Homo sapiens: one gene and its partners. The protein of the gene in region 4 purifies or fractionates together with the protein of the main gene of each other region. This does not show direct contact. Each region holds a gene or a part of one and is shown on either strand. Other genes may lie near its edges.

What was found.
Region 1: the proteins of PKN2 (region 4) and RABL3 purify together in Homo sapiens (affinity purification with mass spectrometry; one large-scale study listed by BioGRID and IntAct). This does not show direct contact.
Region 2: the proteins of PKN2 (region 4) and RPE fractionate together in Homo sapiens (co-fractionation; one large-scale study listed by BioGRID). This does not show direct contact.
Region 3: the proteins of PKN2 (region 4) and ABLIM2 purify together in Homo sapiens (co-immunoprecipitation; one large-scale study listed by IntAct). This does not show direct contact.

What each region holds. Positions count from the first base shown.
Region 1 is NC_000003.12:120,701,017-120,704,516, reverse strand, and holds part of RABL3 (rab-like protein 3), read left to right. Parts: intron 1-3,500. UniProt on the Homo sapiens protein: Required for KRAS signaling regulation and modulation of cell proliferation. Regulator of KRAS prenylation, and probably prenylation of other small GTPases. Required for lymphocyte development and function. Not required for myeloid cell development.
Region 2 is NC_000002.12:210,009,138-210,012,637, forward strand, and holds part of RPE (ribulose-phosphate 3-epimerase), read left to right. Parts: intron 1-519; coding exon 520-599; intron 600-3,500. UniProt on the Homo sapiens protein: Catalyzes the reversible epimerization of D-ribulose 5-phosphate to D-xylulose 5-phosphate.
Region 3 is NC_000004.12:7,966,814-7,970,313, forward strand, and holds part of ABLIM2 (actin-binding LIM protein 2), read right to left. Parts: exon of another isoform or gene 2,946-3,500; intron 291-2,945; coding exon 177-290; 3' UTR 1-176. UniProt on the Homo sapiens protein: May act as scaffold protein. May stimulate ABRA activity and ABRA-dependent SRF transcriptional activity.
Region 4 is NC_000001.11:88,774,549-88,778,446, forward strand, and holds part of PKN2 (serine/threonine-protein kinase N2), read left to right. Parts: intron 1-3,898. UniProt on the Homo sapiens protein: PKC-related serine/threonine-protein kinase and Rho/Rac effector protein that participates in specific signal transduction responses in the cell.

The sequences.
Region 1 (3,500 bases), on a different chromosome or scaffold from region 4:
ATGTCTTACTCCAATCTTAGGGGGAAAGCATTCATTTCACTATTAAGTATGATGTCAGCTTTAGGTTTTTTTTGTTGACATCATTTATCAGGTTGAGAACATTTCTTTCTATCCCTAATTTGCTGATAGTTTTGTTAATATCATGAACAGATACTGAATTCTGTCAAAAGCCTTTTCTGCATCAATTGATATGGACATGTGGCTGCTTCTTTAGGCTGTCAGTATGGTGGATTACGTTCACTGATTTTCAATACTGGTGGATTACATTCACTGATTTTCAAATATTGAACCAGCCTTCCATTCCTTGGTCATGGTGTATTATTCATTTTATGTGTTGCTGGATTTGATTTGCTAATATTTTGTTGAGGATTTTTATCCATGTTCATGACAGGCATTGGTGTGTAGTTTTCTGTTCTCATAATGTCTTTGACTGGTTTTGGTGTGAGGATAATGTTGGCCTCATAGAATTAATTGGAAGTATTCCTTCCTCTTCTATTTTTTGGAAGAAATTGAGTATATTTGGTGTTATTTCTTCTTTGAAGGTTTGGTAGAATTTACCAAGAGACCATCTGGGCCTGGAGGTTTCTTATTTGAAAGGTTTTTAACCACAAAGTCAACTTCTTTAGTAATTAGGATTGTTCAAGTTATTTATTTCATCTTGGATGAGTTTTTGTAATTTGTGATTTTCAAGGAATTCCATCTATTTCATTAAATTTTTTAATGTATATCAATAGAGTTGTTTATAGTATTTGTTTATTGTCCTTTTGATAGTTGCACAGTTTGTAGTGATATGACCTTTTTCATTCTGATTTTGGTATTTTATGTCTTCTCTTTTTCTTGTCAGACTTGTAGAGGTTTATCAATTGTATTGATTTTTTTCCAAAGAAGCAACTTTTGGTTTCATTGATTTTTCTCTATTGTTTTTCCATATACAGTTTAATTGATTTCTACTCTTATTTCTTTCCTTCTGCTTGCTTTTGGTTTATTTTGTTCTCTATAGCTTCTTAGATTACTTACTGGATACCTTGCATTTTTGCCAATACAAGTATTTTAATGCTATAAATTTCCCTCTAAACACTGCTTTAGCTGCATCCTGCAAATGTTTAAATGTATTACTTTTATTTTCATTTAGTTCAAAATATTTTCTAATACTCCTTGAGATTTTCCCATAGGCTGTTTAGAAATGTGTTGTTTAGTTTCCATGTATTTAGAGGCTTTCCAGTTATTTTTTGCTATTGACTTCTAGCTTAATTTTATTATGATCCAAGAACATACTTTATATGATTTCACTTATTTTATATTTGTGCAACACCCGGTATGTGACCTGGGTGTTGTTGTCTCTGTTGTTTCAGTTTTCAGTGTCTTTGGTACACTAAGTAGGATCAAATCCATGCATGCACAGCTTTGGCAATGAGCTCAAGCATTCACGAACTACTTCATGGGGTTGCTTTCTCACACTTCACCCTGTCTACAGTCTCTGCCATACTTTGTGATTTGCTGGGGCTCCCTTTTTCGGTCCCCAGGCCAAATTTTCTCATGCACTTGCACAACTGCACCTATGTCCAGGGCCAAGTGGTAGAAGGACAAAGAATAAAAGCAATGGGAGTTTGCCCCACTGTCTTGAGATACAGTTCCATCAGTCAGAAAAATTTCCCTTCTGGGCCCGGCGCGGTGGCTCACGCCTGTAATCTCAGCACTTTGGGAGGCCAAGGCGGGCGGATCATGAGGTCAGGAGATCGAGACCATCCTGGCTAACATGGTGAAACCCTGTCTCTACTAAAAATACAAAAGATTAGCCAGGCGTTGTGGCGGGCGCCTGTAGTCCCAGCTACTTGGGAGGCTGAGGCAGGAGAATGGCATGAACCTGGGAGACGGAGCTTGCAGTGAGCCGAGATCACGCCACTGCACCCCAGCTTGGGCAACAGAGTGAGACTCCGTCTCAAAAAAAAAAAAAAAGAAAAATTTCCCTTCCTCTGTATTTGTAAGCAGGCGTTCCCAACCCCTGGTCCATGGCCTGTTAGGAACCAGGCCACACAGTGGGAGGTGAGTGGCAGGTGAGTGAGCATTACCATCTGAGCTCCACCTCCTGTCAGATTAGCAGAGGCATTAGATTCTCATAGGAGCGTGAATCCTATTGTGAACTGTGCATGTGAGGGATCTAGGTTGCAGGCTTCTTATGATAATCTAACTAATGCCTGATGATCTGAGGTGGAACAGCTTCATCCTGAAACCATCCCCCAAACACCTGTCCATGGAAAAATTGTCTGCCATGAAACTAGTCTCTGGTACCAAAAAGGTTGGGGACTGTTGTTTTTGAGCATTCTGCTTGTGTTATAGCCTTTGCCACAACTGTCATGAAATTGCTCAGAAGCTGGCTTACAACAGAAGGAAAAATATTGTATTTCTACACTATCTCCAAGTATTCGTGTGTCCCCTTTCTTGTTTCATGAGCCAGAACTATAGGCCTTCTTCTGGAGTATTCTGTTCACACTTTTGGGTTTTAAGCTGAGTTGCATTCAGACAAGGGGATATGGAAGGAAACTGCTAATTCAATGGTTCTTCACATTGCAGTCTTCCTTAATATGCTCACTATTAATTTTTCAGAGTCCTCAAATAGCCACTTCATGTATCCTGTCCAGGTTTTATAGTTGCATTCACTGGGAAAGACAGGATAGAGTTTGCTTATTCTGTCTTACCTAGAACAGAACCCCATTTTCTATCTTTTGATTGAAGCAAGTCTTTCAAAGGCTTTGTTTTCTGTGTGGAAGTCTAATTGTTATGTGAAACCTAAATATAGTATAAGTTTGAGTATATATATGTAGATTCCAGCAAGACCTAATAAAGAATAAGCACAACTAATTTAAAACCTATATTTCAAAGCCTCATTGATATTTATTTCCTATCTCAATTCCTTTCATCACTGATGTCTTCATTAACCTAGCTTGTTCTCTATTTTCTACTAAAATTTCTACTTAAGAAACTTATCCTTAAATTTAGGGTTAGGAGACAGCATATTCATATCAGAAAGAAATCTGCATTTTTGTCAGGGAATTCAGTAAAAGTTCTATACCCATTTGCATTTTGACACTACAGTTTCATTTTGATTCTATAGATAAACCTGCAAATGTATAAAACAACCTTAATACATTGGTGTGCTTTGTTGGTGCATTATTGTATAGCATCAAAAAATTTGGAAACAACCCTAGTGTCCGAGCAACGAAAGATTCATTGAATAAATAATGGCATATCCACATACTGGAGTAGTATTCAATGTTTAAAAAAGAATCAGGAAGATCTCTATGAACTAAAATAGAAAGATCTACAGAGGGTACATTATTAGGTTTAACAAATCAAAATGCAGAGAATATATATCGTATACCTCCTATTGTATAAGAAAGAAAAGAAATAATATGTATTTATATTTGGATAAAGAATCAGTGAAAAATAAGAAACTAATAAAAATGGTAACCTATAGGGGGCCAGGGGAGATGGGTGGATGG
Region 2 (3,500 bases), on a different chromosome or scaffold from region 4:
GCTTGGCATGTAGTAAACCCTCGGTGAAAGGTGGTCGTTACTAATAAACACATCATGTTTCTTTATTAGTCATCTTTAAGAAAGTTTAAAGAAACTGTCATTTAGTGCCTTGTGATAGAAGTGATTAGAAGTAGCCACAGGCCTCCTGAGATAGACTAGGATTCAGGAGATCAATATTAGAGTCCAGAACTTACTAACTAGTGTGTGACTTGGGCAAGTCATAAAGCCTGAGGGTTTCTGATTTTATCATCTCTCCATTTCTACTTGTCATGGGTCGTGAATTACGGAGTCAAATCATTATGAAAATATATGTGACGTGATTTGTTGAAATGTCAAGGAGACATTGCCTAGTAAAACCAAAATGACCCATTATTTTTAGTATTATTTAATACTGATGATTAAGTATTAAATTGAAAAACATTGCAGACAATCCCCTCAACCTGTGTCAGAATTCATATTGAGAGAGATACAGAAACTGAATTGAAAACATTTTCAGAGTAGATTTTGTTTGTCTTGTAGGCATTTTGTTCCCAACATCACCTTTGGTCACCCTGTGGTAGAAAGCCTTCGAAAGCAGCTAGGCCAGGACCCTTTCTTTGGTAAGTGGGTGTTACGCCATCTGAAGCTGGATGTGTTGCTCAAGTAAAGGAAAACTGGATGGTTGATTTTAACTTCCAAGTTCATCTGGCACCCTTTCCCCAACTTTCCTATCCTGGGTCTTCATTGGCCTGACTCCAGTAACAAGCCAAACTTCTTCCTGCCTCTGGGCCTTGGCTAATCTGCATGGAAAGGTAGTAGCTTGGCTGGCTGCCTCATCTTTGGGCCTCAAGTCATTTGTCATTTCCTCAGAGAGGCCTTTTTGAGCGTCCTCTCCCAAATTAACCTTTATCCAATTATCTTATCACCTGTTGATTTTCCTCTGAGAACTTCCTTTGATCTGCGATTACTTTTATTAGACTATAAACTCTCTGAGGGCGGGGATTGAATCCAGTTTGTTTACTGTGGTTTTCCTAAAGCTAAGCATAGACATGATCAGGGCTCAGTGTAATTGTTAAGTGAATTTATGAATCAGTTGATTTATGGTCCAGAAGCCATTTATTTTGTGCAAATTGGAGCTTTCTACAAGTGGTGCCTAAATATTCACTCCAATGTCCTAGTACAATGTAAATTAAGATTTTTAAGATTACTTAGTGGCCTACAAGTGATTTATGTTAAGTTAGCAATGTCTCACCTGCCAGATCTCTTAAACATGAGAAATTTTACACATTTTTATAAATAGTGTTATTTATTTTTTTCTTTTTTTTAAAATAGAGACTGAGTTTCGCCATGTTTCCCGGGCTAGTCTCAAACTCCTGGGCTCAAGCAATCCACCTGCCTTGGCCTCCCAAAGTGCTAGGATTACAGGCTTGAGCCACCAGCCTAGCCATAAATAGTTTTTTTAACGTAGCTTACAATTTAGTAGAACTTAGATTCTTTTTAATCAGCATATTGCTGACCAGTTTTATGAAGGACTCTGTGCTGTTCACTATGGTAGTCATAAGCCACATGTAGCTATTAAAATTAAATAAACTTAAGTTCATGACCAGAATGGCCAACATGGTGAAACCCTGTCTCTACTAAAAATTCAAAAATTAATCAGGCGTGGTGGCAAACACCTATAATCCCAGCTACTCAGGAGGCTGAGGCATGAGAATCACTTGAACCTGGGAGGTGGAGATTGTAGTGAGCTGAGGTCATTCCACTGCACTCCAGCCTGAGTGACAGTGTGACACTCCATGTCAAAAAAAAAAAATTTTTTTTAAATTAAATAACATAAACTTAAAAATTCGGTTTCTTATTCACGTTAATCACATTGCAAGTCTTCAGTAGTCACATATTGTACAGTGCAGCTATGGGACATTTCCAATATCACAGAAAATTCTGTTGAATATAGTCTCCAGCCTCTGTGTAGGATCTATCTACTTTGAGTTCACCAAAGAAAATGTACATTATTACCTCATTTATGTGGCATGAGGAAACAATGTTCCACCAATATATTCACCATTTTGAAATTTCCATATAATGGGATATAGTCCTCTGATTATCTAAACTTTCTTTTAAGCCATGATTAGCTTATATAGCAGATACCGTGACTTTTCCTATGAATTACGGTTGTTCTCATGACCATGAGAGGTAGATGAAATAAATAGCATTGTTTTCTCCCACTGTACAACCAATGGCCAGAATCCTCGCTTCTGGCTTGCTTGTGTGAATTTTTTTAATGCTTGCTTTTTTTCCCCTTTTCGCTCCCTTTTATTTGGGCTCCCATTGTCACACCATACTATTGTCTATATCCCTTCCTGTCAGTGCCTTTCCTTTTAGCAATCCTGTGTTGCTGCCACCACACACAATCTGCTTTTTCTTCTTGTTTTTAATTTGTTGATAAACTTGCTAATTAATCTTTCTAGAATTTGGTCTAAAAGATAAATGAACTCCATTCACTTTAATGTTTGGGTTTTGTGACCCTTGTTTTTTGGTTTTTCGCTTTTTGTTGTTGTTGTTGTTGTTGCTTTAAGAGACAGACTCCGTCTATTACCCAGGCAAGAGTACAGTGGTACAGTCATAGCTCACTGCATCCTTGAACTCCTGGGCTCAAGCAATCCTCCCGCCACAGCTATAGCTAAGACTACAGGTGTGTGCCACCACAACCGGCTATTTTTTTTTTTTTTTTTTTTTTTTACTTTTTGTAGAGATGGGATCTCCCTGTATTGCCCAGGCTAATCTTGAATGCTTGGGCTCAAGCCATCCTCCTGCCTTGGCTTCCCAAAGTGTTGTGATAGTAGGTGTAAGTCACTGAGCCCGACTACCTTTGTTTTTTATATTGAGAAACATTTGTTTAATTCTTGGATTTTGGTTGTTGGATAATTGATACATGAATGTATTCTAGGACCTAGATTACATGTTGTGTTGTATATGTAACGCTAACATTCTTAACTGTTCAGTTTTCATATTGAGTAGAAATAAATGTCTAAGAAATACAGTGATGGGAAAAGTCTGTTCCTGTTATTGTCTAAATCAGTGATCCTCAAGTATGTTGTATAAGGACCCACACAAATCCTTAAGACCCTTTCGGGTCATCCATGAGAGTATATCAAAACTATTTTCATAATCCTAAGAAATTATTTGCCATTATTTCTACTGATGGTACAAAAACATTGATGAGTTAGTTTGCTGGTGCCTTAACCAACTCAAGGCAGGGACTGTATCAGGAGTTATTCTTCATCATCATGCATTTGCAATAAATATCCTTGATGAAGCAGTAGAAATTAATAAATCTTGGTCCCTGAATACATGCCTTTTTAATATTTTGTGTGGCAAAGTAGGAAGTGCATATAAAGTGCTTGTGCTGCATTGCTGCATACTGGAACATAATGGTTTTCTCAAGGAAAACCACTTGCACCATAGAGGTGTGATCTGAACTAGCTGCTTTCCTCCAGAACACTATGTTTGTTTGAAAGAAC
Region 3 (3,500 bases), on a different chromosome or scaffold from region 4:
CCGGCAGGAGTGTCGCCGGCAGGTGCAGGGGCCGCACCTGCTGGGGGACCCCCTCCCGCCCACCCCATGGACACAGAGAAGCCAGAGCAAGGTGTGTGGGAGGGGTGTGTGCGGTTCTCGCCAGGGGCCCCTGGCCTCGGCGCCCGGCACACACCAGTGGGGCAGGCTGGCAGCCGTCAGAACAAAAGGGCTTTCTTCTTAAGGTCATTCCTCTTCCAGAGGGCCAGGCGGTCAAACTCCTCGATGCTCATCCCAAACACTTCCTGGAACTCCTCGGGCGACAAGTGTCTCTTCAAACAAAAAGGCAAAACAGAAGGGACCAGTTAGCCACGCAGCAAGGGACACCATTGGGCAGTTTGCTGCCGCCAAGCAATCCAGGGGCAGGATTGCATTGAGGATGGGGTGGCCCTCAGCGTGCTCGGCCTCCTGGCGGTTCCTGACACCCTCTCTGCAGTGAAAGAACTGAGCTCAGAGGACAGCGACCCTGCCAGGGACACACAGCACCCAGTGGTGGAGCTGGAGCCAGAATCTTCTGCTCTTGACTCCTACAAAGGTATCTGCTGCTGTGGACCAAGTTCATTAACATGTCCCAGAGCAGGACCCCCACCTGCGTGCAAATGTCTGAGCTTTTATAGATTTCCTTCAGTGGTCATATTTGTTACTTCAGTGAGTGGTCACAGCTGCCATCCGAGAGCAGGAGGTGGAAGGTTTACCCCCGGGACTTCGTAGCCCAGGAGGGTGGGGCGCGGACAGTGAGCAAGAATGCCAGGCACGGCCCAGGCCCAGGCGCAAATCCTCCCTCCACCGGAAGCCCCTGGTGTGTAAGCGTGAGAGAGCTGTTGTGCCTCTCTGAGCTCAGCTTCTTGTCTGTGGTCACCGTGGAAAGGCACACAGCTTGGTGGTCAGGGCGTGGATACCAGTGCTTCTGGGATGCCATAGGAGTGAGTTAGACCCTGGAGCCTCAGTCTGCTCATCTGTGTAATGGGGTCCCCTAGAGCCCACACCCTGGAGCTGTGGGGAGGAAGGCGTGGACATAGGTCAGCACTGGCTGTGGACTGTACCCGTGGGTGCTGGCTGCATGTGTTAGTATGACCTCAGCCACCGCAAGCTCTGTGGAGCTCCTTGCCAAGCAGCCACCTGCCTTCTAGCTCTGCCTTGCAGGGCCTGCAACCCCTACTCTCCTGCCTGTCTTCCTCAGCAGGCTCTGAGAAACCCCGCATCCCTCAGAGCTGGCTCAGGCGTCCCCTCCCCTAAGGAGCTTTTCTAGGGAGCCTGGGACTTTCCATCCACGGGGATGCTTCCCTTTGCTCCCCTCGCCTCGCCTGGGCGGGGCTGAGAGGAGGAACTGGAAAGAGGCTGGAGAAGGCCAGTGACAGGAAGAGGCCAGGCTCTGCCCTGAATCACCATCTGCTGCCTTCTGAAAAGCGTGGCTTCAGTGCAGCTCTGTGGGGAGTTTTCTGTAGTTCTGCGACACACTCCACACAGTTATCATATGCCCCAGCCATCCACTCTTGGACAGACACCCGGAGGAATGGAAAACAGGGACTCAGAGAGATGATGGTCGCCCATGTTCCTAGCAGCATTACTCTAAATCACTGCAATGTGGAAACAAACCAGGTGTCCATCAATGGACGAATAGATACACAGAATGTGACATGTCCATGTGACGGAATAGCCTTCAGCCTTAAAAGGTCGTGAAGTTCCGACACATGCCACAGCATGGATGAGCCCCAAACACACTGGCTCCATGAAGGAAGCCAGACACCAAAGACCACATAGTATATGATTCCACTTCTCTGAAGTGTCCGGAACAGGCAAGTCCATAGAGACAGAGCATGGATTCGTGGTCGCCAGGGACTGGGGGAGAGAGGAATGGGGAGGGACTGTTTAACGGATATGGGGTTTCCTCTTGTGGTGAAGAAAATGTTCCGGAGCTGGAATGTTCCGGAGTTGGAATGTTCCGGAGCTGGAGAGTGGGGTTGGTGGCACAATGTTGTGAATACACTGAACTGTACTGAATGGTACACTTTAAAATGGTTAAAATGGGCCGGGGGTGGCAGCTCACGCCTGTAATCCCAGCACTTTGGGAGGTTGAGGCGTGTGGATCACCTTAGGTCAGGAGTTCAAGACCAGCCATGGCAAACCCCATCTCTACTAAAAATACAAAAATTAGCCAGGCATGGTGGCACATGCCTGTAATCCCAGCTACTCGAGAGGCTGAGGCAGGAGAATCGCTTGAACCCAGGAGGTGGAGGTTGCAGTGAGCTGAGATCACACCATTGCATTCCAGCCTGGGTGACAGAGTAAGACTCCATCTCAAAAAAATAAATAAAATAAAATAGTTAAAATGGTCAATTTGGATGGGTGTGGTGGCTCACACCTGTAATCCCAGCACTTTGGGAGGCCAAGGCGGGCAGATCACTTGAGCTCAGGAGTTTGAGATCAACCTGGGCAACATGGTGAGACTCCATCTCTACAAAAATTACAAAAATTAGCTGGGTGCGCTGGCGTGTACCTGTAGTCCCAGTTACTGAGGAGGCTGAGGTGGGAGGATCTCTTGAAGCCAGGGGGTTGAAGCTGCAGTGAGCTGTGATCACACCACTGCACTTCAAACCTGGGTGACACAGTGAGACCCTGTCTCAAACAAACAAACAAACAAAAAACTCAAGTGCTATATTAGAATCACTGTGATTAGCAAAAGAGAAAATGGAAGTGGAGACATCTGGTCAACTATGAAAAGTGTAAACCATTGCCACTCACGCATTTCACAAGAATCACCAAATCTGTGTGGTATGCCCTGGATTTTGCAGCCCCAGTAGTTGGGGTGATCTGGAGGAGGGACTCAGGAAATCCCCCAGAATGCCATGTTTTAGTTGAATCTGGGCTCAGAGTCAGTCTCTCTTTCTCTCTCTCTCTGACACACACACACACACACACACACACACACACACACACAGCCTATCCAGCAAGTCTGCCAGGAAGAGGCCCTCAGCCGCCTGCTGCTATCTCGAGTTTGCAAAGAGGAAAAGAATCCTGGTGCTTGCCAGAAATGAACCACTTGCGTGGTGCTGAGATCAGGGTTTCTTGGTGCTGAGAAATCCATCAGCCAGTCCACAGAAACTTAGAATTGTCATTTCAGACCGCGTCTCTTAAGACATTTGACACTCAATGTGTCATTTAAGATAGCAGCCCTGCACTTACAGGTACAAAATCACCATCTTCTGAATTATGGTGGAACAATCAAGACGGATGAGATCAAAGGAAAGAAAAAGGAAAATCATTTCTAGCTTTATCCAAGACCTGGTGATACCAGACCTTGTTCCAGACATGGAAAGTCAGAGACACAAGGCCCCTGGCAGGGGTAGGCTGGGGTGGTGAACTGACACGTAAGTAAATATGTAAAGGAGGGGAGGCTGACACCGGAAGGGCGAGGAGAGTTCAGTGCTGGTGCCTGGGGCAGGCCTCCCTGTGGCCACATTCCTGCTTCCTGCTGGGGGAGG
Region 4 (3,898 bases):
TCTTCCAGAAACCAGGGACAAAAACCAGCCAAATTATATACAACAAAAGGGCTTATTTCTGTCATTTTGCGGGTTTTTTTTTTTATGCAAGTGTTTATCTTTTTTTCTCTGAGTTCTAGTACTACCTTCTTTTGGTTTTGATTGAATTTTTCTACTCTGTTTTTATTTACTTATTTTTGAGACAGGATCTCTCTTTGTTGCCCAGGCTGGAGTACAGTGGTATGATCATAGCTCACTGTAACCTCAAACATCTGGGCTCAAGCAATCCTCCTGCCTCAACCTCCTGAGTAGCTAGGAGTACGGGAACGTGCCACCACACCTAGCTAATTTTTAGTTTTTTGCTAGCAATGGCGTCTCACTGTGTTGCTCAGGCTTGTCTCAAACTCCCGGCCTCAAGTCATCTTCCCACCTCAGACTTCCAAAGTGTTGGGATTATAGGCGTGAGCCACTATGCCCAGCCTCTATTCTTACTTTTCTTATTCCCTTCTTGCTCCCTTTTATGAGATAGATAGATATATATATTCTCCCACCTCAGCCTCCCTAGTAGCTGGGAGTACAGGTGCACACCACCACGCTCAGCTTATTTTATTTTTTTTGTAGAGATGGGGTTTCTCTGTGTTGCCCAGGCTGGTCTTCAACTCCTGGGCTCGAGCAATCTGTCCACCTTGGCCTCCCAAAGTGCTAGGATTACAGGCATGAGCTACTTATGCCTGGTCTTTCACTAAATCTTGAACTCCTCGCAACCACTCACCTCACTTCCTCCGTAGTTTTGCCTTTTCCACAATGGTCATACAGTTGGAATCTTAACAGTATGTAGCCTTTTCACATTGGTTTCTTTCACTTAGTAATATGCATTTAAGTTTCCTCTATGTCTTTCCATGCTTTGATAGCTCATTTTTGGTTTTGTGCTGAATAATACTCTATTGTGTGGATGTACCATAATTTATTTATTCATTCATTTACCGAAGGACTTCTTGGTTGCTTCCAGGTTTTGGCAGTTATGTATCAAGCTGTTATAAACATCCATGTGCGGGTTTATTATTTTCTTAGTGATTACCCCAATGATTATAACTAATGTCCTAAATTTATTATAATCTTATCTTTAGTAGCCTACAAAAAACTCTTTGACTGTGCCCTTGTTATATTGTCACAAACTCTCTTTATGCACCATATACCCATTAACATAGGCTATAAATATTGTTTTATGCATTAGTCTTTTAAATCATAAAGGAAACAAAAAGAAGAGTTACTTAAAATACAGAAATATTGGCTTCTGGCCAGGCGCAGTGGCTCACGCCTGTAATCTCAGCACTTTGGGAGGCCGAGGCGGGTGGATCACGAGGTCAGAAGATCGAGACCATCCTGGCTAACATGGTGAAACCTCATCTCTACTAAAAATACAAAAAAAAATTAGCCGGGCGTGGTGGCAGGCCCCTGTAGTCCCAGCTACTCAGGAGGCTGAGGCAGGAGAATGGCGTGAACCTGGGAGGCGGAGCTGGCAGCGAGCCGAGATCGTGCCACTGCACTCCAGCCTGGGTGACAGAGCGAGACTCCGTCTCAAAAAAAAAAAAAAAATACTGGCTTCTATATTTACTTATGTAGTTAATTTTACCTGCGTTTGTCTTCCTTTTTTCCTTTCTCTCTCCCTCCCTCCCCCTCCCCCTACCCCCTCCCCCTTGCCCTCCCTGACACTGCCCCCACCCCGCCCCACCCGTCACTTCTCCCATCCTTCATTTCAATCTAAAAGGCTTCTTTAGCATTTCTTATGGGCGGGTCTCCTAGTGTCTACCTCCCTTAGCTTTTGTTATCTAGGAATCTCTTTCTTTTCTTTTTTTGAATGATAGTTTGGTATATATATAGAATTCTTGGCTGGCAATTTTGTTTTTTTCCAGCACTTAAAAAAATGTCCAACTAGGCACAGTGGCTCACACCTATAATCCCAGCACTTAAGGAGGCCGAGACGGGTGGATCACTTGAGGTCAGGAGTTTGAGACCAGCCTGGCCAGCATGGTGAAACCCCATCTATACTAAGAATACAGAAATTAGCCAGGCATGATGGCGCATGCCTGTAATCCCAGTAACTCAGGAGGCTGGGGCAGGAGAATCGTTTGAACGCGGGAGGCGGAGGTTGCAGTGAGCCAAGATCATGCCACTGCACTCCAGCCTGGGTGACAGAGTAAGACTCTGTCTTAAGAAAAAAAAAAAAAGTCCTCCTGCTTCCTCCAGGCCTTTATGTTTTGTGATGAGAAATCCACTGTTAATGTTACTGAGGATCCCTTGTAAGTGATGAATTATTTTTGTCTTGTTGCTTTCAAGCTTTTCTTTGTTTTTTCACAGTTTAATTATAATGTGTCTTAGAGTGGATCTTTTTGAATTTATTCTACTTAGATTCTTTGAGCTTGATGTGTAGGTTCTTGTCTTTCATCAGATTTGGGAAGTTTCCAATCATTTCTTCAAATGTTCTTTCTTCTCCCTCTGAGACTTTGATTTTTGCCTACATTGGTGTGCTTTATGGTATTTCTCTTAGACTCTGATTTTCTTCATTATTTTTTCTTTCTGCTCTTAAGACTAGACAAGTGCAATTGATCTACCTTCAAATTGGCTCACTTTTTCTTCTGCCTGCTCAAATCTTGTATTGAACCTCTCTAGCAAATTTTTTCATTTTTGTTATACTTTTCAATTCCAGAATTTCTGTTTGGTTCTTTTTTATAATTTTTAAATCCATATTGATGTTCTCTATTTGTAGACACATCACTTTTCTTGTTTCCCCTAGATATTTGTCCATGGTTTCTTTTAGATTTTTGAGCATCTTAATTTAGTAAGTCCAACATGTCTTGACTTCCCCAGGGTCAGTTTCTGTTAATTTCTTTTTTCTGTGAACTGACCGTATTCTGTTACTGTGCTTGCTTCATAATTCAAGTACTTCATTTCCTTAGTATACTTACTCACAAATCAGATTTTACTCTTTCCAAAGATTTCATTTTTCTGCTATATGTTGAATGTAGTTGTTTGCCTAGTAACTTTTATAATCTATTTTGTAGAGACTATTCTTTCTCATGTATTACCCCTGAGGTGTCTATTTCATTAATATATTGTACACCAAAATAAAATTCTAAGCCACCCAACTAAATGAATGGACCCCCTCCTCTCAGCCAATGGCATTCTAAAGTAAACCTGAAACACTAGTTCAGGTCGTGCTGGGAATGGGTGGTTTGGACATGCCTCATTATGCCTTCCTCCCTTTGGAATTCAGGTACTGCAGACCAGCATTAACATCAAAACAGAGACCTTAAGACTGACTGAACAGACTCTTTCAGTAGATAAGAAACATTTACAGTCTCTTCTTTCTGAAGCCTGCTATCTGGAGGTTTCATCTACAAAATGAGAACCTGGGTCTCCACAACCCCTTATCTTAACAGCACTCTTACAATACTCCCTTGTATTGATTCCAGGTCTTTAGATAAACTCTTTCTACCAGTTGCCAATCAGAAGATCTCTGAATCCACCCGTGACCTGAAAATCCCTACTTCGAGTTGTCCATCTTTTCTGGACCCAACTAATGTACCTTTTACATGTATTGATAGATGGCTTATGTCTCCCTAAAATGTACAAAACCAAGCTGTAACCCAACCACCTTGGGCACGTGTTGTCAGGACCTCCTGAGGCTGTGTCACGTATATCCTTAATCTTGGCAAAATAAACTTCTAAATTGAGACCTGTCTCAGATACTTTTTGGTTTACTATATAGTCATCTGGTGTTTCAACAGACATTTCCTTTAATTCCTGAAGAAGAAAAGATTGCCTAGTCTTTGCAGCTGGGCCCTGTGCTTGAGCACTCACCCAGACACTTTACAACTCTGCATTTGCTTTGTGCAGAGCTTGAGAGTCAACCATAGGT